Linked DNA regions of Homo sapiens. The protein of the gene in region 2 purifies or fractionates together with the protein of the main gene of each other region. This does not show direct contact. Each region holds a gene or a part of one and is shown on either strand. Other genes may lie near its edges.

Region 1 (7,035 bases), on a different chromosome or scaffold from region 2:
TTAGCTGGGCGTGGTAGCAGGCACCTGTAGTCCCAGCTACTTGGGAGGCTGAGGCAGGAGAATGGCGTGAACCTGGGTGGCGGAGCTTGCGGTGAGCTGAGATTGCACCACTGCAATCTTGACAATCCACTGCAATCCAGCCTGGGCGACAGAGCGAGACTCCGTCTCCAAAAAAAAAAGAAAAAATTAGCCAGGCGTGGTGGTGGTGGTAGATACCTATAATCCCAGCTACTCAGGAAGCTGAGGCAGTAGAATCATTTGAACCCGGGAGGCAGAAGTTGCAGTGGGCCAAGATTGCACCATTGCACTCCAGCGCGAAACTCTGTCTCACACGCACACACACGCACACACACACACACACACACTCCAGGAGGAAAGAAAATAAAGGACAAAAAGTGGGAGAAACAGATGAAACAGAATCAACAAGCTACTGACAAGTGTGGAAGCTTGATGAGGCATATACAGGGGTTCATATATTTTGCTCTCTAATTTTGTATTTGAAAATTTCCAAAATAAAAGTTTTACTAAGTTCCCAGGTGTGCTTAGGCCAACACAAGGGCTAAGCCTGACTTATTTGTCCACATTGCTGTTAACTTTTGAACACAAATTAAGTTCAAAGCTTACAGTTCTATTTATTTACAAAGTTTTTATTATGAATTTTTATTGAGATTTTCATAAACATTTTTAATCTGCATGTTTACTACTTTTGGCCTCTAAGAAGTCCCATAAAGTTATAAAAAATAGAAATTTATAAATACACATTGAGAATTTTGCATTTTTATACAGGGTCAATGTTTCAAGTTGTCTAACCCTTTCCCTGTCTCCCCTCAGAACAAAATTATAAGAGTATAGCCTCTGAGGCCAGGCGCGGTGGCTCATGCCTGTAATCCCACCCACACTGGGAGGCCGAGGTGGGTGGATCATCTGAGGTCAGGTGTTCGAGACCACCCTGGCCAACCTGGTGAAACCCCGTCTCTACCAAAAATACAAAAAAAATTAGCCGAGAATTGTGGTAGGTGCCTGTAATCCCAGCTACTCAGGAGGCTGAGGCAGGAGAATCCCTTGAACCCAGGAGGTGGAGGTTGCAGTGAGCCGAGATCACGCCATTGCACTCCAGCCTGGGCGATAAGAGTGAGATGCCGTCTCAAAAAAAAAAAAAAAAGAAAAGAAAAAAAAAGAGTATAGCCTCTGAAATCTCAACAGCAGAAATAGCAGCCCTTTTCCAAATCCCACCTCTAACTCAGCACATCTGCATTCAACAGGTGCTTACACTGGATAACAACAACAAATGGAAGCTGCAGAAACACTGACTGGGACAACACCTCCCAAGAGCAGTGAGAACAGCTGGGATTGGCCACGGCTTGAATGTGGGGCTGTGTTCATAAACTTATCAGGCCAAGAATCGCTAAGAACTGAATCACAAACCCTGAGAAGGCCACATAGGCCAGTCTAACTGCTTCGATCTAGGAGAGTTTCACGTTACTACAAACCTGAAAAACTCCTATTTAGTCCAGTTGGGGAATCCAATTTTTTTTTTTTTACTAGCGTCCCCTCTTCCGTTCCTGACAAGCAGCTCTTTCCTTACACAGTACAGTGAGGCCAGAAGAACATGGAGCCTGCTGTCAAGTCCCCAAGTTTTTCAAGTTTCCAAATTCACCAAGGGAATGGAAGACTAAGAGATGGGCTGGGCACCGTGGCTCACGCCTGTAATCTCAACACTTTGGAAGGCCAAGGCGGGTGGATCACTTGAGGCCAGGAGTTCAAGACCAGCCTGGGCAACATAGCAAAATCCCGTGTCTACTAAAAAAAAAAAAAAAAAATTAGCCAGATGTGGTGGCGGGCATCTGTAATCCCAGCTACTCTGAGAATTGCTTGAACCCGGGGAGTGGAGGTTGCAGTGAGCCGAGGTAGTGCCACTATACTCCAGCTGGGGCGACACAGCGAGACCCTGTCTCAAAATAAAAGGAGTTGAACTGTGGAAGCCAAAGGGGAATACATGAAGCTAAATATGGACGTTAGGATTCTAATTTGGGAAACAAGCTTATTCATCCAGTGTTCACTTCCACGTGTTGTTACATTTTTCTTCCTTGGATTTAGTTTTAAAAACTCTTCCTTAGGAGACCAGAAAAGCTATCAGCATGCCCAGCATCTTCCTTAAAAACTTGTTTTCTGGTTTGTAGGGTATGTTAAGAATGAAGTTGTTCTCCCCACAGGATACAAATTGGTTGGACAGACTCAGACCTGCTTCTTGCAGAACGCCTCAGCTTGGCTCACTCCTGCCCATCCACCAGCCTTCCAGCTGACCAGCCGTTTCTCAGCTTTCAGAATACAAGATGAGGCCCAGCCCTCAACACCCCACCCTCACCCCACCAAATCCTTTCCTATTGTTTACTTTATCCTTTTTTTATTTTTTTGAAATGGAGTCTCGCTCTGTCACCCAGGCTGGAGTGCAGTGGCACGATCTCGGCTCACTGCAACCTCCGCCTCCCAGGTTCAAGTGATTCTCCTGCCTCAGCCTCCCGAGTAGCTGGGATTACAGGCATGAGTAACCACACCCGGCTAATTTTTGTATTTTTAGTAGAGACGGGGTTTCACTATGTTGGCCAGGCTGGTCTCGAACTCCTGACCTCAAGTGATCCACCTGCCTTCGCCTCCCGAAGTGCTGGGATTACAGGCGTGAGCCACTGCGCGTAGCCCCTCTTTCCTACTGTTTAAACCCCATGGCTCCTCTGTCAAGTCCCAGCATAATAGAGCCGACGCTCTAGGCTCTTGTCAGAGAAAACCTCTTCTTCCAGAAGGGGTAAGACTTGGCAGTTCCCAAGCACACATTCCTCACAGGGGCAATAAATGGTAAATCTCTCAGGAGGAGAGTGCTGCCCCGCTTCAGGGAGCTTTCGTCAAATGCCGACGGGAGGACAGGTGCAGCCCCGACATGTCGTTCTTCTTCACAGTGATGCATCTGCTCAAGACTCCTGACTCCTGCCCACCCCAAACAAAGCTGTGCTGTGTGGCCTCCTGTTTCCGACACGTTGAGGGAGTACAAAGAACTTTTCATCAGCTCAACGGAGCACTTGGGAGGCCAGATGAGGAGAGAAATAAGAATGAAGTTCTGGGATGAGAAAGTGGTGCCACAAATTGTGAGTCAATAAAAGGGATCCAGATATCCTGAAATACACGCTGGACAAACAGTCTTCCTTGTAATAAGCACAGCAGCAAAGAGCCCTTTCCTTCCTGTCACTTTCCCTGGTCTCTTGAGTTTCAAAGGAATCAAATCCTGTGATAATGAACGAAGTCACTGGCTGCTGCTATGCCCCACCACATAGCCTGATTGATTAAGAAAGTCTCTGGTGGGGTGCGGTGGCTCACGCCTGTAATCTCAGCACTTTGGGAGGCCGAGGCGGGTTATCACTTGAGGTCAGGAGTTCAAGACCAGCCTGGCCAACATGGCGAAACCTTATCTCTATTAAAAATACAAAAATTAGCTGGGCGTGGTGGCTCACACCTGTAATCGCAACTCTTTGGGAGGCCAATGCGGGTGGATCACTTGAGGTCAGGAGTTCAAGACCAGCCTGGCCAACATGGCGAAACCCTATCTCTACTCAAAATACAAAAATTAGCCAGCATGGTGGCGCTTGCCTCTAGTCCCAGCTACTCGGGAGGCCAAGGCAGGAGAATCACTTGGACCCAGGGTTGCTGAGACTGCAGTGAGCTGAGATCACACCACTGCATTCCAGCCTGGGTGATAGAGTAAGACTCCATCTCAAAATAAAAAAAAAAATTCTCATTATTCTGTTCATATCTTCCTCAACCCAAACATCCAGTGAAAATAGGTCATCTTAATAAGACGGTTTGCCATGAAAATCATGTCCGATCACACCCTGCAGCCTCGGCTTGGCCATGAGGAGGTCACCCTCTTCTTCCCTTGAGTGGCTTTAACTCCCCGGGAGGGTGGAATCTGCGCCCCTGTACAAGCCAGGTTTCCTTCTCAGCTCAGGAGAGGGACCTAGAAAGAAGAGGAACCATGGAGCCTCCTGGTGTGGGCCCTGTCTGCTCTCCTTCTAGGGGAAAACTGCTCCAGTGCTGTGAGGGTTGGTCCCTAGACTGCAGGACACTCAACCACTAAGGAACAAGAGCTATGTACGGGAGCCAAGTAAGGACAGGAAAAGGGAGACTATTCCCTCTCACCAGAGTGGCTTTCCCCAAGGCTCCGCCCCACTGAGGAGACTCTTCCAAGAAGCAGAGAAGACCACCTCGGTGGGACAGTGAAGGCTCTCTGGACCCCAGCCTCCAACTCACTTCTTCCTGCGGATCTTGGGCTTCTTCACCGGCCGCAGATAAGGGTTATCGATGATGTTCTCCTCCCCATTCCGGCTACCCGACAAGGAGGGGTTCTGCTGCAGGACAGAGGTGTTCTCCTTCTCGGCTCCAGAATCCTCCTTTGAGCAAAAGCCAAAATAAAGCACAACATCAACAGCATAAGGAAAGAGATCATGCCTATAATTGGAATGACCATTAGCATCCTCTAATTGAGAAATTAGAACCTGGGAAGCACCTTCTTTCCAACATTCCTATCTCTGCCCCGATGAAGCGAGGACCAGGCAGGGGCTGGCTATGAAGGGAAGGCAAGACTAACAGCCTTGACCCAAGAGAGCACACAACAGAGTCCAGAGTTTTGAACCTCTGGAGAAGGCAGGGACAGGGGTTAGAAAGAACAGACACCTGGGAGGGACAGGAATCAAATTCAGATGCCTCAGGGAGGATGCCCGGCCAGGTGGGGAGATGAAGAAGAAAAGTGATCCTGGATGCCCTGCATGACTGGGAGATACAGGATCAGAACACATCATCTGCATAGCGCATCTCCTGGCCAAGCTAGATAGACTAAGTCAGAACAGATTTCTCCCTCAAATCCTCACATTTCTGGTACTTGCAACATGGTACCAACAATCACATCCCAGCACAGGCTAGAAACTTCTTGAGCCTTGAGGGTTCCACTAAGGGACGCAGAGCCAGCAGGTACCAGCACATGCACATCATTGGTAATGCCTATCTGCAACCTATGAGGCAGGGTTTGTTTGTTTGCCTGTTTGAGATGGAGTCTCCCTGTGTCACCCAGGCTGGAGTGCAGTGGCGTGATCTCGGCTCACTGCAGCCTCCGTCTCCGGGGTTCAAGCAATTCTCCTGCTTCAGCCTCCCAAGTAGCTGGGATTTCAGGCATGTGCCATGACGCCCGGCTAATTTTTGTATTTTTAGTAGAGACGGGGTTTTACCAGTTGGCCAGGCTAGTCTCGAACTCCGAGGCAGGGTTTTTTACTGTTCATTTTTTTTTTTTGAGATGGAGTCTTCTTCTGTTACCCAGGCTGGAGTGCAGTGGTGTGATCTCAGCTCACTGCAAGCTCCGCCTCTGGGTTCAAGAGATTCTCCTGCCTCAGCCTCCCAAGTAGCTGGGAGTACAGGTGCCTGCCACCACATCCCGCTAAGTTTTTTATTTTTAGTAGAGACGGGGTTTCACCATGTTAGCCAGGATGGTCTCGATCTCCTGACCTCATGATCTGCCAGCCTTGGCTTCCCAAAGTGCTGGGATTACAGGCGTGAGCCACCGCGCCCGGCCGCTTTACTGTTCATTTTTTGAGAAAAATGTGTTTTTTCAGAAAAGTTTGTAAGTTCACATGTAATCAGTATGATCAAAATTCTTAAAAAGTCACAGTTGTGTATAGACACAGAAAAAAAGGTAATATGCTGACATTTTAAAAACTGTTCTGGAAGTATGAGCAGTCAGTTATCCTGTCTTTATTCACAGCCTCCTTTATTTTCCACGTTTGGTCGGGCTGCGCCCCCTGGTGATGGGCCAAGGGGAAGAAGTTCTTCCACGGGGAAGAAGTCATTGAGATTCCTGTTCTGCAACTTGAGGCTAAAGAGGCCCTCACTGACCTCAAGCAGGAGAGGCTGCTGTCAAAACAGACAGAGGATGCCATGACCGGATGGCATGAAATAAATAGCAGGTTCCCCTGACAGGACAGCTGGCCTAGGGCATGGACACCAGTCTCAGGTTTAATGAGCCAGAAGAAACCAGATCACATCTAGGTTCCCCTGCGTGCCCTCTCCCTGTCCTATCAATTGTTCTCTTCAAAGACACAGTTCCATTGGCCCAGTATCAGGGCCTGTGTGTTTTCCCTCTCCAGCACCCAATCCAGTGGGACCACAAGGTGACCCAGAGCCACTGGGGCCTTCCAGAGACTCTTGAAAGCAAGTGCTGCAGGACCAACCTAGTTCAGGCCAGACCAGGTGCCGGAAAAAAGGTCTGCCCACAACCAGACCTCCCTTGGGTATCTGGCATCCAACCTTTCTGAAGTTCCTAATGGTACAAATGAGTAGTATCTCCTCGCTCCGTCCATCCTATCATTTCTCTACAGTAGACAGCCTATCTTCAAAGTTACTGGAAGCTCACTTCAACCGTGCCTTCAATGTTTTCTGAGATACACATGGAGGTAACACTGTTAGAGGTGCTGAAAACGCCAGCCTCAAGACACTGCTGGAGGGTCAAGAGGCTCCCTCCATTCGGCCCACCGTGGCTCACAAGAGCAGGACGGCAGGCTTCCTTCTCCCAAGCAGGCCTCATAGAAATGTCCCCTTCAGGGACAGGCAGCACTGAGATGGTTAGGGGTGGGGAAGTCAGCCAGTTAAAAAAAAAAAAAAAAAAGTAGGCCAGGCGTGGTGGCTCACGCCTGTAATCTAGCACTTTGGGAGGCCAAGGCAGGTGGATCACCTGAGGTGAAGAGTTCGAGATCAGCCTGGCCAACATGGTGAAACCCTGCCTCTACTAAAAATACAAAAAAATCAGCCGGGCATGGTGGTAGGCGCCTATAATCCCAGCTACTTGGGAGGCTGAGGCAAGACAGTCGCTTGAACCCGGGAGTTGGAGGTTGCAGTGAGCCGAGATTGTGCCACTGCACTCCAGCCTAGACGACAGAGTGGGACTCTGTCTCAAAAAAACAAAAAAGTAAAGTGTCAAACTGACCCAGAGATTTGTAAAAAAAA
Region 2 (7,035 bases):
TACTCCTGTAGTTTGCCCAAGATTCTACAAGCCTGAAATAACATTAGGAATATAACCACAATTCCCAATTTTCAGGTTCTGGATGGGTTCACTTTAAAACTAGATCTTGCAATAGAAAACTGAAAGCATTAACAGAAGTTTCAAATGTATGATTCTTCCAGACCCCAAATGACTAGCCTATAACCTCAAGGATCAGGTCTTTTTATTCACTGCTATATTCCCTACTGCTAGCATACAGTGCCTGGCATTTAGTTCACATTCAATAAATGTTTATTGAACATATAAATGAATTAAAAATTAATTCCCAACTGACTTTTTCTCTTTTCTTCTGGCCCATGATCCTCTTCTAATCGGCCCGGCAGACACACAAATAGCATGTAACTAACCTTTTTTTGTGTTTTCCGGAACCTTTTCTTTCTGACATTCTTAAGTGGTGGCGTAACTAAAATAAATACAACACAGTGAAACGTTATATGACTGATGGTAGTCACATAGCTGAATTTGATAAAGACAAAGATCATGCTATAAACCAAAGGGTCATGACATCACTCCTTTTTTTTTTTTTTTTTTGAGATCGAGTCCCACTCTGTTGCCCAGGCTGGAGTGCAGTGGTGCGAGCTCAGCTTACTGCAACCACCTCCTCCTAGGTTCAAGCGATTCTCCTGCCTCAGCCTCCCGAGTAGCTGGGATTACAGGTGCCCGCCACCACACCCAACTAATTTTTGTATTTTTAGTAAAGACAGAGTTTCACCATGTTGGCCAAGCTGGTCTCGAACTCCTGACCTCAGGTGATCCACCCGCCTCGGCCTCCCAAAGTGCTGGGATTACAAGCGTGAGCCACCGCGCCCAGCTGACGTGACTCCTCTTAAAGAGTATCTGAGAACCTAATGAACCAAACACCTAAGTGTGGTAAGACGTCCCTGTTTCACAAGGAATTAGGATTCAGCAAATAAATTTTAGTCAGCAGGAATGAGCAAGGGGCTGGTGACTTACTGCCATGCTTCCAGACACATTTTTCTTCTCTCCCCCTTTCTTTTTTCCTGACTATATTAGGATCAGTAGAGGCAGCTGGTTCTTCTGGAGAAAGGTGGATATCACCATCAGCAGTGCACACAAGCATCTACATTTAACAAAGACAAAGAAGTTGACTATGACCACGAATTTTGGGTTAGCAATCATAATCATTCTTACCACTAGAAATGCACAGAAGAGACTGATACTTGCCATTTCCAGAAAACCAAGTATTTTGTAATGTACATTTATATTCTCTCATTTTTGCAGTCTCTCTCTCTCCCTCTCCTCCCCACCACCAGCCACCAGCAGCACTACATATGAACTCTGAAGGTGCTTTGTTTTGTTTTTTTTTTTCCACGAGAGTGTTTACCACTACAGAGGGAATATATTGGAAACAGATCTTGGAACTTAGCTTAGGTTTTTTGTTTTGTTTTTAGACAAAGTCTTGCTCTGTCATACAGGCTGGAGTGCAGTGGTACGTGATCATGGCTCACTGCACCCTCGACCTCCTGGGCTCAAGTGATCCTCCCACCTCAATCTCTAGAATAGCTGGGACTACAGGTGTGTGCCACCACACCTGGCTAATCTTGTTTTTGTAGAGATGAGGTCTCACTATGTTGCCCAGGTTGGTCTCAAACTCCTGGGCTCAGGTGATCCTCCCACCTCAGCCTCCCAAAGTGTAGGGATTATAGGCATGAGCCATTGTGTCTGGCCTATCTCAGCATTTTGATTTAGAGAGGAAATAAGAAATCAACAGCAGAGATGATGAATAAGAACCAATTTAAACCTCCAGAGTTAACAACATACTGTTTTAATACAAAGTTCAGAAGATCCCAGCAGCTCATATGTTTCAATTAATGAAAAGTCACTATAAGTGGCAAATGGGACTCTCTATAGGCTATTTGGTCAAAATACAATACTGAAAGCTAAGGATCAAACACCAAACGAGAACATGACATTTCATTCCTGTGCAGTCAATCTGGAAATTAGAAATGCCAAGCAGCCATTCACCAAGTGGAAAGGAGTACTGAAAGAAAGAAAAATAGGAAGAGAAAAGAATTCCTTGAAGGATGTGAGGCTAGTAAAGAAAACTAGTCCATACCTGAGAAATGTCTGCTGTTTTATAAAAGGTTTTTTTATCAAGCGTTCTCAGGCTTTCAATAACACAAGGCAAGTCAACCAGCTTAGCAGCTAGTGGGACATCTTCTACTTCAACAACTGCATGGCGCCCATCAGCTGAAGAGAAGTAAAGATTAAAGTTGATATCTTCCCAGTGAACTCTTAAACTTCCTAAGGTTTGAATAATGAAGACTTATGTGGGACAGATTAGTCTTTCCAAGAAACCTACTATCTCTCATAATGCTAGAATTGTGTACACAATTAATAGCTTCCTAAAGAAAAGAAATGGAAAGTATATGGAGCTCTTTTTTCCTAGTTTACGTCACTTGTGCAAAAGTAGCTAAGTTTCTTGTTAATGGATGTGAACTAAATATAGGTGAAGTAATAAATGTTTCATTCTCATCCTGAAAAGCAAATTCCATTCATTAAAACCAATTCCTTTTTTTTTTTTTTTAGAAGCATTCAATCGTGTCATTGTACATGTGTGTTTTCAAAGGGCTGGGTGAGGGAAGGGTTGACTGACCCTAGAATGGTGCTAATAAATCTCAAGTTAAATCTCTAATTAGCTTCATAAAGATAAAATTCTATACAACAGCCATATACTAAACTCTGAATATTGCTGCTCAGATGTCCCAAACATAAATGTCTTTTGACACAAGAGGATTCAGGTATAATCTTCTAGTATTATGTGAAAAAAGAAAGATACAAAACAATGTTTATCATTTTGTGTGAATTAACTCTAAAAATAGAGAGATTGCTTCAATTCTAGTATTATGCATAAGAGTTTTGTCAATAAGGAAGTAACAAGAAACAGTATCAGTTATCTGTGGTATTGAGGTTGGGGCACCATAAGGAAGAAGAGTTTTATTTCTCCTTTCGAACTTTTCTTTTTCATTTGATTTTTTTATTTTTCTTTGAGAAGGAGTCTCACTCTGTCACCCAGGCTGGAGTGCAGTGGCATAATCTCTGCTCACTGCAATCTCCGCCCCCTGGGTTCAAGCAATTATCATGCCTCAGCCTCCCAAATAGCTAGGATTACAGGTGTGCACCACCATGCCCGGCTAATTTTTGCATTTTTAGTAGAGACGGGGTTTCGCCATGTTGGCCAGGCTGGTCTGGAACTCCTGACCTCAAGTGATCCGCCCGCCTCAGCCTCCCAAAGAGCTGGGATTACAGGCATGAGCCATCACACCCAGCCTGTTTTATTTGAATTTTCTAACTATGAACTTATATTATCTTTTTTAAAAAATGTCAGTAAGTGTTAACTAACTGGTGAGATTATGAGCCACTTTTTGTTTTCTCCTTTATATGCTTCTCTGTATTAAAAAAAAAAACTAGCAAAATTTATTTATTTTTGGTTGTGTGTTTTTTAGGCAGATAAACTTGTGTGGAAACATTTATTTATTTATTTACTTATTTACTTATTTATTTACACATGCTCTTGGTGCAAATGGCCTCTAGATTCATCCATGGTGTCCCAAATGACAGAATTTTGTTCTTTTTAAAAGGCTGAGTAGTATAGCATTGTGTATACGTATCACATTTACACTTAGGTTGATTCCATATCTTGGCTATTGTGAATAATGCTACAATGAATATGGGAGTGCAGAGAGATATGCCTTCAACATGTTGATATCAATTCCTTCTGTGAATATATTCACAGAAGTGGGGTTGCTGGATCACATGGTTGTTCTATTTTTAGTTTTCTGAGGAACCTCCATACCATTTAAAAAAAATAATGGCTGTAGGCCAGGCACAGTAGCTCACGCCTGTAATCCCAGCACTTTGGGAGGCTGAGGTGGGTGGATCACTCGAGGTCAGGAGTTCAAGACCAGCCTGGTCAACATGGTGAAACCCCATCTCTACCAAAAATACAAAAAAATTAGCCAGGTGTGGTGGCGCATGCCTGTAGTCCCAGCTACTCGGAAGGCTGAGGCAGGAGAATTGCTTGAACCCAGGAGGTGGAGGTTCCAGTGAGCCAAGATCGCGCCACTGCACTCCAGCCTGGGTGACACAGCAAGACTCCATCTCAAAAAAAAAAAAAAAAAAAAAAGGCTGTATTAATTTACATTACCACCAATAGGGTACAAAGTTTCCCTTTTCTCCTCATCCTCATTAACAGTTGTTATTGTTCTTTTTTTTTTTTTAATAAAAGCCATTCTAACAGGTATGAGGTGATATCTCGCTGTTGTTTTAATTTGCATTCCCCTAATGATTAGTGATGCTGAGCATTTTTTCATGAACCTTTTGGCTACTTGTATGTCTTCTTTTGAGAAATATCTGTTCAGATCCTTTGCCCATTTTAAAATCAGGTTATTTGTTTTCTTGCTATTGAGTTGTTTGAGTTCCTTATATATTTGGATATTAACCACTTTATTGGATGTACAATTTGCCAATATAACAAATATTATTTAAAAGAAAAATATATGTCACTGGCCAGGCACGGTGGCTCACGCCTGTAATCCCAGCACTTTGGGAGGCCAAGGCAGGCGGATCACAAGGTCAGGAGTTTGAGACTAGCCTGACCAACATGGTGAAACCACGTCTCTACTAAAAATACAAAACTTAGCCGGGCATGGTGGCATGTGCCTGTAATCCCAGCTACTTGGGAGGCTGAGGCAGAAGAATCACTTGAACCCAGGAGGTAGAGGTTGCAGTGAACCAAGATTGCGCCACTGCACTCCAGCCTGGGCGACAGAGCGAGACTCCATCTCAAAAAAAAAAAAAAAGAAAGAAAGAAAGAAAGAAAGAAAGAAATACATGTCACCTTTATAAACAAAGAATGGCATATCCATTTGTCATTCCCTTGGATGTTCAGAAATCATAAAGTTTATATATGGGAGGCTACCAGCAGTATAAAAACCCCACAGTTGACCCCCAAGTTTCCTTAAACACACTATGATAATCACTCAACTCAAGGTGCAATATTCCTACTTCCTTTCCTCTTAAAAGAAGAGGACTTAAGCCTCTCTAAAGCATGAGTCCATCAAGTCAGAGACCATATTCTATCATTTTTCACATCCTTAGTACCAAGTACAGTGTATGGCACATAGCAATCCCTTAATAAATTATTGTTCAATGTATAGTGAATGGATATTAACTACTTACGCAATAAGTCAATTTTTAGTTTATCCTTCATCTTGACACTTTGAGAACGTGCTAGGTTCCTGACAGTACAAGCATGTTCCTAAAAAGGAGGTAAATTGAAAAATCAGAAGAACTAAACATCTACTTGGCAGCTAACAGAATAGATATATCAAAGAAAGCCCTCCCTTAAATAAAACTTTACACCTCCCAAATGTTACTAACAAGACCATGTACCATGAGATACTGTGCACTGTATAAGTCAAGTTAGGATGAAGCTGACTCTAAACTCATAATTGTCTCTTAGTAGCTACAGTTAATGCTTTCTCCTAGCTCTACAATCCTGCCTCTCACTGCTACCCTTCTGTTGTAGTTGCTAAAGAAAGGCTTACCTAGTTGCAGTTTGCTTGGTATATTAAGTAACCCTAATTAGGGAAATAGGTTTCTGAACCCCATCCTTAATATAGCTGCCTAGACTAAGTAATTGCTTGAATACAGGTATCAGTGTGGGGGAAGAGAGCCAAATACTTGTTGAGATGAGCTTTAAAAGTCTTGCATGGTGGTGAATAATGCTGGCCCTTCTCACTGCCCCTTTTGAGGTGACAGAAAGGATTTCAGAGGAGCCGTATCTTGGCTGTCCAGGGAACAGGCTGTTAGTATTGGTGGTAAGTGAATGGGTCCATCATTGTCACAGCTGTTTTGCCAGGAAATCAACCTGCATGATAGGTGGTATTGTACAGGAGGAAAAAATGCTGCCAAAAAAGTACACGCTATGATAGGACTGCTTAACAGAACATGATTCCTGGGAAACAAATGTTCTGAGTTTTTATAGCCTACCTGAAATAGAAATGTCAGAATCCAAGTAGAACTATAATTATAATTAAACTATAATTATGAAGATATTTGTTCTGAGATACAAGTTCTTACCAGAGGCAGACGCAATATAAACTGGTTCTCAACTTCATCAGGAACTTCATCCTGGCTTTCACTCATGTCTTGATTTTGAGTTCATGAAAGCAAAAAGAAAACCATCACTAAAAACTCCTCTTGCTCCCTCTCCTGACCACTTCTGGTAGTACTGGCTAAATTATACAAGATCTTGCCCATAATCCTCACTAGAATGATGTGTGTACAGTTAGACAATACCTTATTTGACATAACTTAATTATTTCTAGACGTTACCTTAGCTCCTCTCCAATATGTGTAGATTTTCCAAAGTCAATCCAAATTACATGATGTAATTTGATGAACAAATGAAATAAGAGCTGTTATGAAACATGATTTCGTCTTCTTAATCATATTCTTAGACTCTCAGGTAAAAGACTACAATTCAACAACACGTTGGTGGCTACCTAAGCAAACTAACCTCTGTAGGGAAGAATGCAAACCAAAAGCTGAAATTCGCCTAGAAACCACTTGCATAAATGTTCTGTGATGATTTGAAGTAAACAAGGGCTTGATTTTCAATATTTCACCTACATTAATGGATTAGTAGAAATTAAGCAGTCCATGGGAGACCAGGCAGTTTTTTATGACTCTAGAGCCAGCAACAACAGCTTTGAGCTACCCTGGGGAAAAGTTAGGAGTCCAGTTCTTTTTTTTTTTTTTCAAGACAGAGTCTCGCTCTGTCGCCCAGGCTGGAGTGCAGTGGTGCGATCTCGGCTCACTGCAACCTCCGCCTCCCAGGTTCAAGCCATTCTCCTGCCTCAGTCTCCCAAGTAGTTGGGACTACAGGCATGCACCACCACACCTGGCTAATTTTTGTATTTTTTAGTAGAGACAGGATTTCACCATGTCGGCTAGGCTGGTCTTAAGCTC
Region 3 (7,300 bases), on a different chromosome or scaffold from region 2:
TGGGTGACACAGAGAGACTCTATTTCAATTAATCAACCAATCAATCAATTTGTGAAGGGATTAAAAAGTAAGGCTAGGACCGAGCATGATGCCTCATGCCTGTAATCATAGCACTCGCTTTGGGAGGCCGATGCTGGTGGATTGCTTGAGGCCAGGAGTTCGAGACCAGCCTAGCCAACATGGCAAAACCCAGTCTCTACTAAAAGTAGCTGGGTGCGGTGCCATACGCCTGTAATCCCAGTTACTGAGGAGGATGAGACTTGAGAATCACTAGAACCCGGAAGGCAGTGGTTGCAGTGAGCCAAGATCGCGCCACTGCACTCCAGCCTGGGTGACAGAGCAAGACTCTTGTCTCAAAAACAAAAATAAAAAAAGTAAGGCTGGGCCCGGTGGCTCACAAACACTTGTAATCCCAGCATTTTGGGCGTGGGCAACATGCCGAAACCCTGTCTCTACAAAAAACACAAAAGCTAGCCAGCCATACTGGCACACACCTGTAGTCCCAGCTACTCCAGAGGCTGAGGTGGGAGGATGGCTTCAGCTCAGGAGGTGGAAGCTACACTGAGCCATGATGGCACCACTGCACTTCAGCCTGGGTGAAAGGCGAGCCCCTGCCTCAAAAAAAAGTAATGAAATTATTAATTATTGGCCGGGCACTGTGGTTCACACCTGTAAGCCCAGCACTTTGAGAGGCCAAGGTGGGTGGATCCCTTGAGATCAGCCTGGGCAATGTGGCAAAACCCAGTCTCTACCAAAAAATTAGCCAGGCATGGTGGCATGCATCTATGGTCCCAGCTACCCAGGAGGCTGAGGTAGGAGAATCGCTTGAGCCTGGAGGGCAGAGGTTGCAGTGAGCAGAGATCACACCATTCACACCACTGCACTCCAACCTGGGTGACAGAGTGAGATGCCATCTCACCAAAAAACAAAAAAGAAAAAAAGAAAGAAATTATTAATTACACACTTACTTGAACATAATTGATAAAGTCTTCCTTGAAAAGGGTTCTTCTCTGGATTTTGTACTCTAGATCGGAAGCCTTCTTAATGATAGCCCTGAGGAGAAAGCCATTTAAACTTCACTTGAAAACTGCAAAAATTAAACGTTTAAGTTTATTTTGAATATATTTAAAACATGTTTTTCAAAATACGAAATTCCTAGAGTTATCTTTCATAAGAAAGTATTATCGGCCGGACACAGTGGCTCATGCCTGGAATCCCAGCACTTTGGGAGGCTGAGGCGGGTAGATCAAGAGGTCAAGAGACTGAGACCACCCTGGTCAACATGGTAAAACTGCATCTCTACTAAAAATACAAAAATTAGCTGGGCGTGGTGGTGCGTGCCTGTAGTCCCAGCTACTCGGGAGACTGAGGCAGGAAAATTGCTTGAACCTGGAAGGCGGAGGTTGCAGTAAGCCGAGATCGCGCCACTGCCCTCTGGCCTGGCGACAGAGCAAGACTCCATCTCAAAAAAAAAAAGTATTCTCTTACACAATTACTTTTGTGTTCTTAAGGGTTCATTTTTAAACTTTCAGGAAAATCATCTTAATCAACTCCCAAAACCAATGACATTCCCACCAGCAAAGCAAATACAATTAAGAACTTTATACCATTTATGTATGGTGTTTTTTTTGTTTGTTTTTTTCTCGCTCTGTCGCCCAGGCTGGAGTGCAGTGGCATGATCTTGGCTCACTACAACCTCGGCCTCCCGAGTTCAAGCGATTCTCCTGCCTCAGACTCCCGAGTAGCTGGGACTACAGGCGCTCACCACCACGCTCAGCTAATTTTTGTATTTTTAGTAGAGACGGGGTTTCACCATATTGGCCAGGCTGGTCTCGAACTCCTGACCTCGTGATCCACCCACCTCGGCCTCCCAAAGTGCTGGGATTACAGGCGTGAGCCACAGCGCCTGGCTGGTATTAATAAAGACTTCTTTTACTCCAAGTTCAGGTCACTTAAATTTTAATAATAAATTTCTTTCCGAAATTCCTCTTATTTCTGAGTTCTCAACATGTAAATTTTTTTAAAAATCTAAATTGCGTCTGCCTTAAAAGACTTATTACTACGAAGGACTTACGGGAGAAGATTCAGAGTCCTTAGCTAAGGAATGAACATATGACAAATATATATTAGGAGAATTTAATGCAAGATGTGCAAGACAGGTGTCTTTAGTAATGGTAACATTAACCTTAACTGAGCACTTTCTAAGCGTCCACACTGCTTTGTTTTGTGTTTCATTAACGAATGCTTACTTTGAAGCTCTGAGTCACATTACTACATTCAGACGTTGCAAAACAAAGCAACAGTCACAGAAACCATTAAAAACTATTAAACATAATTTTAACACGCTACTGAATGTCTACCATGTGCCAGGCGCTGTAGTTAGGCTCTGGAGTAGCATATGAAACTGATTTCAATGGTCCCCACCTTCAAGTCTAGTTAGGAATTTATCCACTCCCCCTGGGCTCTCACAGCACTCTGTTCCCATCCCTACAGCAGTACAAGGTACTACAATCAACTTACAGTACACTGTTATCAAAATATTTAATTTGTCTGTCTCCCCCACCACACTCTGCCCAATTAGCTCCTAATGAGCAGGAATCCTGGGTTTATCACCTTTACAGCCCTAAGACCCGGCTCCATGAAGGGCTGTCAAAACGTCTGATGGGTAAGTAGACGGACGGATTACCTTGCAACGAATGAAAAATTAATTCTGGACATCACCGAAAACGAGAAATGGGCTTCCACCACGTTAGGAAAAGTAAACACAGGTCGAGCGTCCCCACATCTAGCCCCTGCCACACACTCCCAACCTCCCCTCAGGCCGCCTCAGCTCTTCCCTCTCCCCAACCCTCTCTCACTTAATCTCCGCATGACTGAACAGTCCAATGCGCTCCAGCTGTTCCAATTCCGGGAGCCGATCTTCTATGCGTTCCTGAATTATCTCTGCCATGAGGTCCGAGGTCTACAACCCCGCGGGTAGCTTCTCAACAGCGAACACGAGCAGGAAGCTCCCGGTTTCAGGTTCGGAGACCCAGCCCTACCACCGACGCGTCCGGACGTAACGTGCTCCCTAGGTCCCGCCTTTTCCGCTTCCGCCACCTCCTACTTAGGGGAAGGCCCTTCGGCTTCTACAGCCACCGTCCCCTCCCTGTGGCCGATTGTGGGATTGCAGCGAGAACCCGCCCTGGTCTTGGGCAGGACGACTCTAGCGGACAGGAGTTGAGGGGCGGGGCTAGACGGGAGGGAGGGGTTAAGTGCGCGCGCCGCTAGACTTGGACAGCCATCAGGAAAAGCGCCTCCAGGTGTAGAGAGGTGGGCTGCTCAAGCCTGAAAGGGACACGAGATGCATTTTCTTCAGAATATTGTCTCCCATCCCACGTCCTGACTTCCCAACACCAAGAACAACAACAAAAAAAAAAGCAAAGGAGGAGGATATTGTACAATTAAACATTTTTGAAAGCCGGTCGCGGTGGCTCATGCCTGTAATCCCAGCAGTTTAGGAGGCCGAGGCGGGCAGATCACCTGAAGTCAGGAGTTCGAGACCATCCTGGCTAACATGATGAAACCCCGTTTCTACTAAAAATGCAAAAAAATTAACTGGGCGTGCTGGCACGCGCCTGTAATCCCAGCTACTCGGGAGGCTGAGGCAGGAGAATCGCTTGAACCTGGGAGGCCGAGATCGCGCCATTGCACTCCAGCTTGGGCAACAAGAGTGAAACTCCGTCTCTAAATAAATAAATAAATAAAATAGAATTGTTTATTATTTAAATCAATATCCTGTCTTTGTAAGCAATAGCTTTCAAAATATATGTCCCTAGGTGAATATCAGACACTATAAATTCTTTTTAGAAAAGGAGATTTTTGTATTGAAAAGTTTGAGAATTACCAAAATAAATCACTAAGGTATAGACACCCTCCTTAAACCATTGCCCAAGCAACTTAGCATTTCTAAGAGAAACACCAGGCAACACAGCTTGGAGGCAATATTGCTGGTATAGTTAGTAAACCTCAAATGATAACTACATGGTTCAGTTCTTTTTTAGTTCTGGATATAAAAAAGCCAAAGCAGCAGTTCTTGCTAAATCTGCTTATTTCAACATTCACATTAGCACCTGGATCCTGTGTGTGATTTATGAAAGGAGAATGGGCTCAGCAAAACCATGTTCCACCTCTGTGCCTTGCATTTCTTTCTTTCCTTTCACATTTTACCCACTCATCTCAGAACTGAGACGAGGGTTGGCTTGTGCTACACCATTTCTTGAATCCTTCAGCTGTAAGACATGTCAGAAGTGGAAGGAAATCACGAATGTAAGACAAAGATAGAATTTATTTGTAAAAGTAAAATCTCTGGGGCTGTGTTAACAGTAAGAGTGGAGATGACACTAGATAGTAAACTCCATATGGGCAGGGAATTTTTTCCTTTTTGACTGGCTAGATACTCTACAGCTTATAGCAGTGCCTACCATATAATAAGTACTCAGTTAATAAATGCATGACACTAAGAAAAGGTACTTGCTAAATTTCTTTAGGTACAAGGAAGTCAGCAAGTTATGACAGACTGTAATCATTTCAAAGTAAATTTGATAGAGACCTTCATAAATTAACCATGATTTTTATTTTATTTTATTTTATTTATTTATTTAGAGACAGAGTCTCGCTCTGTCACCAGGCTGGAGTGCAGTGGCGCGATCTCGGCTCACCACAACCTCGACTCCCCTGGTTCAAAGGATTCTCCTGCCTCAGCCGCCCGAGTAGCTGGGACTACAGGCACGTGCCACCACACCCAATTAATTTTTGTGTTTTTCGTACATACAGGTTTTCATCATGTTGGCCAGGATGGTCTCAATCTCCTGACCTCATGATCCACCCGCCTCAGCATCCCAAAGTGCTGGGACTCCAGGCGTGAGCCAACGCGCCCGCCCAATTTTTAAATCAAACTAACTATAAATACGCTCCTCCTTTATATTGTTTTGTTTTGTTTTGTTGTTCTTTTTAAGACCGAGCCTCGCTGGCCAGGCACTGTGGCTCACACCTGTCATCACAGCACTTTGGGAGGCCGAGGCCACGGATAACCTGAGGTCAGGAATTCAAGACCAGCGTGGCCAACATGGAGAAACCCCGTCTCCACTAAAAATACAAAAAAATTAGCTGGGCCTGGTGGCCTCTCTCTGTTGCCTAATGGGGAGTGCAGTGGTGCGCTCTCGGCTCACTGCAACCTCCACCTCCTGGGTTCAAGCGATCCCCCGAGTAGCTGGGATGACAGGCGTGAGCCACCATGCCCGGCCTAATTACGTTTTTGTTTTGTTTTGAGACAGGGTCTTACTATATTACCCAGGCTGGAGTGCAGTGGTGTGACCACAGCTCACTGCAGCCTCAACCTCCTGAGCTCCAGCAATGCTCCCACCCCCGCCTCCCAAGTAGCTGGGACTACATGTGTGCCCCACCGCACCTGGCTAATTTTCCTTTTTTCTTTTTTGTAGAGACAGGGGTCTCACTATGTTGCCGAGGATGGTGTTTTTGTTTTTGTAAATAGAGACAGGGTCTCACTGTATTGTCACCATGGTCTTGAACTCCTGGCCTCAAGTGATCATCTTGTTTCCCCTTCTCAAAATTCTGGGATTACAGGCATAAGCCAGCACGCCCAGCGATCCTCCCTTATTTTGAAATTTAGCTTTTTTTTTTTTGAGATGGAGTTTTGCTCTTGTTGCCCAGGCTGGAGTGTAGTGGCGTGATCTTGGCTCACTGCAACCTCAGCCTCCCAGATTCTAGTGATTCTCCTGCCTCAGCCTCCCGAGTAGCTGGGATTACAGGCGCCCACCACCACGACCAGCTAATTATTGTCTTTTTAGTAGAGACGGAGTTTCACTATGTTGGCTAAGCTGGTCTCGAACTCCTAACCTCAGGTGATCCGCCCACCTCGGCCTCCCAAAGTGCTGGGATTACAGGCATGAGCCACCACGCCTGGCCAAAATTTAGCGTTTATGTATATATTCTTGTTGTTGTTGTTGTTGTTGTTGTTGAGACGGAGTGTCAGTTTGTTGCCCAGGCTGGAGGGCAGTGGCATGATCTCGGCTCACTGCAACCCCCGCCTTCCCGTTTAAACGATTCTCCTGCCTCAGCCACCTGAGTAGCTGGGACTACAGGCGCACGCCACCACGCCCAGCTAATTTTTGTATTTTTGGTAGAGACGGGGTTTCACCATGTTGGCCAGGCTGGTCTGGAACTCCTGACCTTGTGATCGATCCACCCGCCTCCACCTCCCAAAGTGCTGGGATGTGAGCCACCCCGCCCTGCCTAGCTTTTATATTTACCTTCAAGAATTATTATGATGGGCCAGGCGCAGTGGCTCACATCTGTAATCCCAGCACTTTGGGAGGCCGAGGTGGGTGGATCACAAGGTCAGGAGTTCGAGACCAGCCTGGCCAACATGGTGAAACCTCCGTCTCTACCAAAAATACAAAAATTAGCCGGGCATGGTGGTGCGTGCCTGTAGTCCCAGCTACTCGGGAGGCTGAGGCAGGAGAATCGCTTGAACCCGGGAGATGGAGGTTGCAGTGAGCCAAGATCACGCCACTGCACTCCAGCCTGGGTGACAGACCGACACTCTGTCCCAAAAAAGAAAGAATTATTATGATGTTTTGGAGGCCAAGGCAGGTGGATCACCTGAGGTCAGGAGTTCACAACCAGCATGGCCAACATGGTGAAATACCCCCCCACTAAAAATACAAAAATTAGCTAGACATGGTGGCGGGAATCCCAGCTACTCTGGAGGCTGAGGCAGGAAAATTGCTAGAACCTGGGTGGCGGAAGTTGTAGTGAGCCATGATCACACCACTACACTCCAGCCTGGGAGACAGAGCGAGACTCCGTCTCAAAAAAAAAAAAAAATACTTGGGAGGCTAAAGCACAAGAATCGCTTGAACCCGGGAGGCAGAGACTGCAGTGAGTCGAGATCGTGCCACTACACTCCAGCCTGGGCAACAGAATGAGAATCTGTCTCAAAAAAAAAAAGAATTATTATGACAGAAATGACAAAGCCTTCTTTTCACTTCTGCATCTCATAATAATAGCTGTCATTGGCCCGGCGCAGTGGCTCACGCCTGTAATCCCAGCACTTTGGGAGGCCAAGGTTGGCAGATCACAATGTCAGAAGTTCAAGACCAGCATGGCCAGCATGGTGAAACCCCATGACTCTGTCTCAAAAAAAAAAAAAAAAGCTGTCATTATGTAGGGCTTATTGTGTGCCCAGCTACTATGTGCACTGTTCTAAGTCCTTTATGTTTTTTTGTTTTTTTTTTTG
Region 4 (6,627 bases), on a different chromosome or scaffold from region 2:
TTTCTCTTTGCAGTTTCTTGAACTTCCTTTGGTTGGTGTCACAGCCAGCCACCCAGTAGAGACTGAGACCACCAGTTCATTTCACACAGGCCACTGAACAGTCATAAGATGGTGACAACTTTTGGTCTCTAGTGACCTGGACTGGATCCGACTCACTGACCTAGAGGTGAAAGGCTCTGTATTCCATTACTAATCCCTCGAGCTCTCCAGCCCCCTGAAAATGATTCTTTGGTTTTATTATTGCAAAGACCATTTATAAAATCATGAACTGGATTTAGGAAAGCAACCATGAAATAGCAAGGGACAACAAACTGATTGAAATTCCTTAAATGTAGCATGGGCTGAAGTCTCTCAGACAGTAAGATTGGGGGGAAAGTTATATATAGGCACCTCCATTCTGATTTCAGTAGCGTGACCTGCTCACTTAAACGTGGCAACTTCAGATCATGGACCACGCCTCAAGGAACTAAATCCTAAATAAAGAAAATGGAAAAGCAAACTATGAAATAGCCAATAATCTTTATTTTGCACTTCCCCCACCCCTCACCCCTCTCCAAAAACCACTAACGCGCATTTTTGTGCATGTGAAAATATTGTATAAAGTATTTAGAATGATCTCAAATTAATCAAACAAAAAAACACATATCTCAACATAGATGCTTTGTTTCTTAGCGGGGATAGAAAAATTCTGGCCTCTTGAACAACGAGGGCAATGACACCCTGTGCTCCGAAGAGGTCGACTCCATTTCCACTGATTTGCAACTTAACATTCATGGCAGAAAACCGCATTTCTCTAACCACATAATGTTTTAAAATATGACTAATTCATACACTAATATCAATTTACTTGGCATTTAAAAAAATCACATTTTCTAGTAATATATTTGTATTAGGTTCAAAGCCCATATTCTAGCATCCAACAGATCCAGCACATGGGCCTACACTGGGATTATTTCAAAATCAAGTAAAAGTCCGTATTTATCCCAAAGTTGCTAAAATATGCTAATAAAGTTAAATTTGATGTTTTTTTAACATTAAAAATAAAATATTTGGTTTACCTCTCAGACATCTATAACATATAATAAATAGTGGGCAGTATAATAATATAATAAAGTTTTGTGATACCCTGAAATTTGATGAGTTTTCTTAAAAAAATTCATAATATACTTCATTTCAGCCTTAAAGCACAATATTAATGAACAGATTTGTAGAAATAAAACAATATAAAGACAAAATGCTACAGTATATGTGGGTTTTTTGTTGTTTTTTTTTTTTACTTTCATGGAAACTACATGTCCTTTTAGTAAAAGTCTGTCAAAGAAATTTACAAAAACAAAATAGACAACAAACAAAACAACTTCAAGTCATAAACTCTAAATTTAAATTGCCTTGTTTTCCTTCCAACTGCTCGGGCCCTTTCCCCACCATGTTTCCGGGCACTGCGCAGGCTGAGCTCAAGGGAAATTTCTTTGAACGATGGCTTTTTCTCTAGCCTTGTTTCTGTCCAGCGTCATTACAGACCTGGCTGAAATCACAGTGGATTTCAGAGAAAGCCAGAATTAAACACGATAAAAATTTAAAAAATAACTACTTCATAAATATTTATTATTTACATTAGGGGCAATCTTTTAGTCTGAAGAGTTTTTATACAAGTTGATGAAATGTACAAGCAGTGAGAAGAGACTCCAGCAGTTTAAAGAAGGGCAAAATTAGAATGCAACGAAGATATAAAATACATTAAACAAAAATAATTTGCACAAAAGCAAACAGGACATGATAGAAACCTTTTTCTTAAAAAATATAAGGTATTTCACAAAAGCCTGAACATTTTACATGTTAGTACTAAAAACGGGGGAAGGAGGGAAGCTTCATATATTCTTATCACAAAAATATTTACCGGTACTCCAACTGGAGTTTTCTTTTATGTTATTCTGATTATCTTACTATAGAGGGAAAGGGGCTGAAAACTGTATACAGACTCTATCATCCTTAAATTACAGTTGAGGCAGTTTGTACATTATCTTCTCATCTAATACCTCAATGAAAAGGCCCTGGAGAGAATAAAGGAAATCAAAAGGGAAGATGTACGCTCTTTATTAATAATACTTGTCACTGGTATTAGAGAAGTGGAGGAGGGGCAGCCCCCAGGCCACGCCTCTGCTTGAGTTTCCTTCTGTCGCACTGCCACGGAGCCACAGGCCAAGGCGGCTCGGGAGTGAACAATCCAGGTGCGCGGTGTGTTCCAGCCTCAGTCCTCCTGGGTTCTTTATCCACAGGCATCTGGGGGTGGATGTGACGGCAGACTTGCACCAGCTCCCTTCCAGAGGCGCCAGGGAAGAAGCCCGGGCTGACCCCGCTTGGTCCAGCCCCTCGGGAGTCGTCAGTGGGCTCGATGCTTCCTCTTCTTGTGCTTTTTGTCCTTCTTCTTGTTCGCACACTTGGGGCAGAACCACTGCATCTCTTCTGGGGGTGCAGTCATGATTCCAACACAGGGCCTGCACGTGAAAACAAGCTCAGATAAGCAACTTTTATACAGACATCTATTCTTCTCCCTTCCATGTTTTAAAGTAATTTTTTAGAGTCTATGACATGTTTACCCGAAATCAAAGTCAAGCAGCACTAACTTGTGTGTAGCACTATTGTTGGGCATGCGGACTATGAGATCACAGATGCTCCCTTTACAGGCCCCCTGCAGAGACTCATCCGTTCATTCATCCTCTCAGCCAGGAATAGAAGTCTTCCGAGCCACGGCTTTGTCTTTATCTCACAGATATCGTCTATCATAACTGAACAGGTTGCTATCTTTTTTGTATCTGACATTTTAAAGATAACACGAGATTATCTGCATAAATTCTGGTTGAGCTTTTCAGTTTTTAGGAACCGCTGAAGAGGTCTAAAAAACAGATAAGCAGTCTTTAGTCCTGCAGTTTGTACCACCTTTACAAAGGCGCTGCCTCTTCGTGGTCCTGGCCAGTGCTACAGCTCCTACAGAACATTACTGGAAAGGAAGGCCAGGGAAGCCCCTGGATCTCCTTTTAGTATTATTATTTTTAATAAGAAGGATAGATAAGCTAAGCAGAATATTCAGAATTTAGGGTGAATAACAATAGTCTAAGCACTCTTGGGTTTTGCAGTTAATTGCACTTCACAGGCTCAGTGATTTGACTCCATGTACTGTCCCTAGGACAGCCCTGGGTCAGTCCAAAGGCAGGAATCTACTCAGTGGATGCTTCATCTCAGGAGCGGCTGATGCTGCCTAATGAGTGTGGCCGGCAGGGCGCCCTGGGCACTCACCAGTGGTACCAGTCATCGCAGTCGTCACACCCAATCATGGGACTCCCATCGTCAGGCTTGTTACACCCAGGGCAGATCCAGATCTGATTGCCCCACTCATCTCGGATCTGATGTTTGCAAAGCGGAAGCGGCAAAAATGGAGGGAATGGGAAAAAAAACAAAAAGAGGCCAGATCAGAATGATTACTTTATACTGTTAACCGAATAAACAGGCATATTAAACTAAAAAATATAGTAGATCAGCACTTCATTAATGCCATGATCAGCGTCATCACTGTTTTAGAATCAAGAAACAGAAAAACGCTAAGTGTTCAATGATAAGGCATTTCTAACGAATATTCTAAGCTTTCTTTTGTAAGTCATAAAAAGCATTTTATAATCATCTCTGTGAACAATATGACCTGTAACCCCTTTCATAAAAAAAAAAACTATAACTATGTAAATTCTTAATGATTTGGGTCTTTATAAGGGTGGTAACAACTGATTTTTTGAAAGTTATAGAGCTCCACTTTATATGTGGTTTTCTCAATCGCATTCATAGGCATGGAATTAATATAGACAGCCAAATGTGCATGCACCACCTTATTACTTATTAGCCAAGCCCTTCTCCTGAAGGAGCTGATAAGATCAAGGATATAAAAGAGTTGTTACTAAGTAACTTTCCATTCCCTTTATGACATTTTTAGTAAAGTACAATCAACTAAAGGGCAAATGAAATAAGGGGATAGGGAGGCCACAGAGCTACAAGGTTCAACATTATTTTGCTACAAATATTGTGTACTCTAGAGTTGACTTTATTTAACTTAGCAGTTCTAAAGAGGGAACATCCTATTCACCACTTCCTCAAACTTCACATGAACAGAGCCAACCTGGAAGAATTAATTCACTGATGGGCATTCAACACCAGCAATAAGAAAAAGGTAACTTCCAAAGTGTTTACAATAACAGAGCACATTATTGCATCCGGTTTATTTTGTAAGGGATAGTTCTTCCCAGACTTTCAAATACCACACTGACTAGACATGCTTTTAGAAAGGCTTTCTTTGTGTGTGACAGGTGCATTGGGGGTCCATATATGTTTCACTGTAGTGATGGGCTTCCTTTAAGGCAACTCTACAAAGGCAAACTACATTGACAGGAAAACTTCCTAAAGAAATCTGTGGGCAACTACATCTCTGACCCTCCGTAATTCCAGGAGAAAAAGTAACAAGGGGTGAGAACCAGCAGTCACCCGTACCTGCTGTCTAGAGGCCAAGGCTGGTGGAACATCCTATGCCCTGAAGCTCCCACGTGTGGCCAGTCCTGCTGCTGGCTGACCTTGCTTGAAGTCAGAAGGCCGTGACTCTGTGTGCCGCACAAGAACTTCACCACGGCATCCACAGCAACTAATACCAAATACCTCATAGCTTACTAAATTCTTCTAAACATCTCATTTCATTTAATCCCTGTAAAACAACCTCTGGGTAGCTTATGAATGGGGAAACCGGAGCTAAGGGAATTTAAGTGGCATTTCCAACATCACACCATTAGGCAGTGACAAAATTTGCCTTTTTGCTCTCTAGCCTTTGTATGTCATCTAAATCATAAATTTTGTCCTCTAACCACAAAGCGTCTCTCTTCATGAGGTAGAAAGCTTTTTTTAAATTTTCATTTTTATTTTAAAGACAGGGTTTCACTCTGTCACCCAGGCTGGAGTGCAGTGGTGTGATCATGGCTCACTGTAGCCTTGACCTCGGTAGGCTCAGGTGATCTTCCCAGCTCAGCCTCCTGAGTAGTTGAGACTACAGGCACATGTCACCCTGCCCAGCCAATTTTTGTATTTTCTGCAGAGATGGGGTCTCACTATGTTGCCCAGACTAGTCTCAACTCCTGGGCTCATGTGATACAGCTGCCTTGGCCTCCCAAAGTGCTGGGATTATAGGCGTGAGACACCATGCACAGCCAGTAAGCTTTCCATCTACATTGTCTATTCCAGTTGGACTCATCTCCAGGAAGTGAGTTAGCTCAAAGATCTACTGGAAAACCAGAACTTTTAGAGCTAGAACATGCCACAGAGATTACCAAGTTTAACACAAACTCCTTAATTACAGATGAAGACACGAAGGTCAAGGAGGTTAAGTACAAAATCTTTCCTGATCAACCCATTTGGGGGTGATGTTGCCTCTAATTAAACACCTACAATGATTGGTCCCCGAATGGACCAATTTGATGATCACACTTTTAGAAGTTCCTTCCAAAACTCCTTTAAGGAAATTTAATAATAGGCCAGGCGTGGTTGCTCATGCCTGTAATCCCAGCACTTTGGGAGGCCAAGGTGGAAGGACTGCTTGAGCCCAGGAGTTTGAGACCAGCCTGGGCAACACAGAGAGACATCATCTCCACAAAAACCAAAAACAAACAAACAAAAACAGCCAAGAAACAGCCAGTTGTGGTGGCAGACGCCTGTGGTCCCAGCTACTCGGGAGGCTGAGGTGAGGGGATCACTGGGGCCCAGGAGGTCGAGGCTGCAGTGAGTGGTATTGTGCCACTGCATTCCAGTATGGACAAGAAGAGTGAGACTACCTCAAAAGAAAAAAAGAAAACATAAAAAAAAGAAATGTAATATTGTACAGTTTATAACAACAAATACCATGAGTCCTACCCAGCCACTTTCCAATCATATTAGTACCTAGCTAGTTACAAGGTCAGGGCCACCAGTAGGCTAACACATCACAGTCTGCAGAGTTGGTAGTCACAGCAATGGCAATGGCTCCACACACCTTAAATATTTCGTTGTGTGTTTGTGTGTTTAATTCTATAGTATCCAAAGAACGTAATCTGTATAAACACTTTACTGCCAGAGTGTATTCAGGGAGTAAGAAACTAAAAAACAGTCCCAGAACAATGTGGACTCAGTGGACATGGTGGGATTTACAATTTTTTTTTTTCTTGAGATGGAGTTTCGCTCTTGTCCCTCAGGCTAGAGAGCAGTGGTACGATCTTGGCTCACTGCAAGCTCTGCCTCCCGTTCAAGCAATTCTTGTGCCTGAGCCTCCCGAGTAGCTGGGATTACAGGCACGTGCCACCATGCCCAGCTAATTTTGTTTGTATTTTTAGTAGAGATGGGGTTTCACCATGTTGGCCAGGCTGGTCTCGAACTCCTGACCTCAAGTGATCCATCTGCCTCAGCCTCCCAAAGTGCTGGGATTACAGGCGTAAGCCACTGCGTCCAGCTGGTTTTACAATTTGAAATCATGCTTGGATACTCAGGAGTTCTGTGGTCTCAAAGTTCATTTCCATTTAATATGCAAGCCCTGGCATATTCTGGATCATAGCCAATAAAATATAATTAGTG

Evidence for each region.
Region 1: the proteins of TAF7L (region 2) and TAF8 purify together in Homo sapiens (affinity purification with mass spectrometry; 2 studies listed by BioGRID and IntAct, with this or other methods). This does not show direct contact.
Region 3: the proteins of TAF7L (region 2) and UTP6 purify together in Homo sapiens (affinity purification with mass spectrometry; 2 studies listed by BioGRID and IntAct, with this or other methods). This does not show direct contact.
Region 4: the proteins of TAF7L (region 2) and TAF3 purify together in Homo sapiens (co-immunoprecipitation; 3 studies listed by BioGRID and IntAct, with this or other methods). This does not show direct contact.

The regions. Positions count from the first base shown.
Region 1 is NC_000006.12:42,074,501-42,081,535, reverse strand, and holds part of TAF8 (transcription initiation factor TFIID subunit 8), read right to left. Parts: intron 4,437-7,035; coding exon 4,297-4,436; intron 4,004-4,296; coding exon 3,991-4,003; 3' UTR 1,801-3,990; coding exon of another isoform or gene 1,761-1,800; 3' UTR 1-1,760. UniProt on the Homo sapiens protein: The TFIID basal transcription factor complex plays a major role in the initiation of RNA polymerase II (Pol II)-dependent transcription.
Region 2 is NC_000023.11:101,281,334-101,288,368, forward strand, and holds part of TAF7L (transcription initiation factor TFIID subunit 7-like), read right to left. Parts: intron 6,213-7,035; coding exon of another isoform or gene 6,211-6,212; coding exon 6,145-6,210; intron 5,321-6,144; coding exon 5,242-5,320; intron 2,251-5,241; coding exon 2,117-2,250; intron 1,121-2,116; coding exon 994-1,120; intron 443-993; coding exon 387-442; intron 1-386. UniProt on the Homo sapiens protein: Probably functions as a spermatogenesis-specific component of the DNA-binding general transcription factor complex TFIID, a multimeric protein complex that plays a central role in mediating promoter responses to various activators and repressors.
Region 3 is NC_000017.11:31,898,678-31,905,977, forward strand, and holds the start of UTP6 (U3 small nucleolar RNA-associated protein 6 homolog), read right to left. Parts: upstream 3,032-7,300; 5' UTR 2,951-3,031; coding exon 2,859-2,950; intron 1,054-2,858; coding exon 969-1,053; intron 1-968. UniProt on the Homo sapiens protein: Part of the small subunit (SSU) processome, first precursor of the small eukaryotic ribosomal subunit.
Region 4 is NC_000010.11:8,010,505-8,017,131, reverse strand, and holds the end of TAF3 (transcription initiation factor TFIID subunit 3), read right to left. Parts: intron 3,402-6,627; coding exon 3,295-3,401; intron 2,496-3,294; coding exon 2,381-2,495; 3' UTR 501-2,380; downstream 1-500. UniProt on the Homo sapiens protein: The TFIID basal transcription factor complex plays a major role in the initiation of RNA polymerase II (Pol II)-dependent transcription.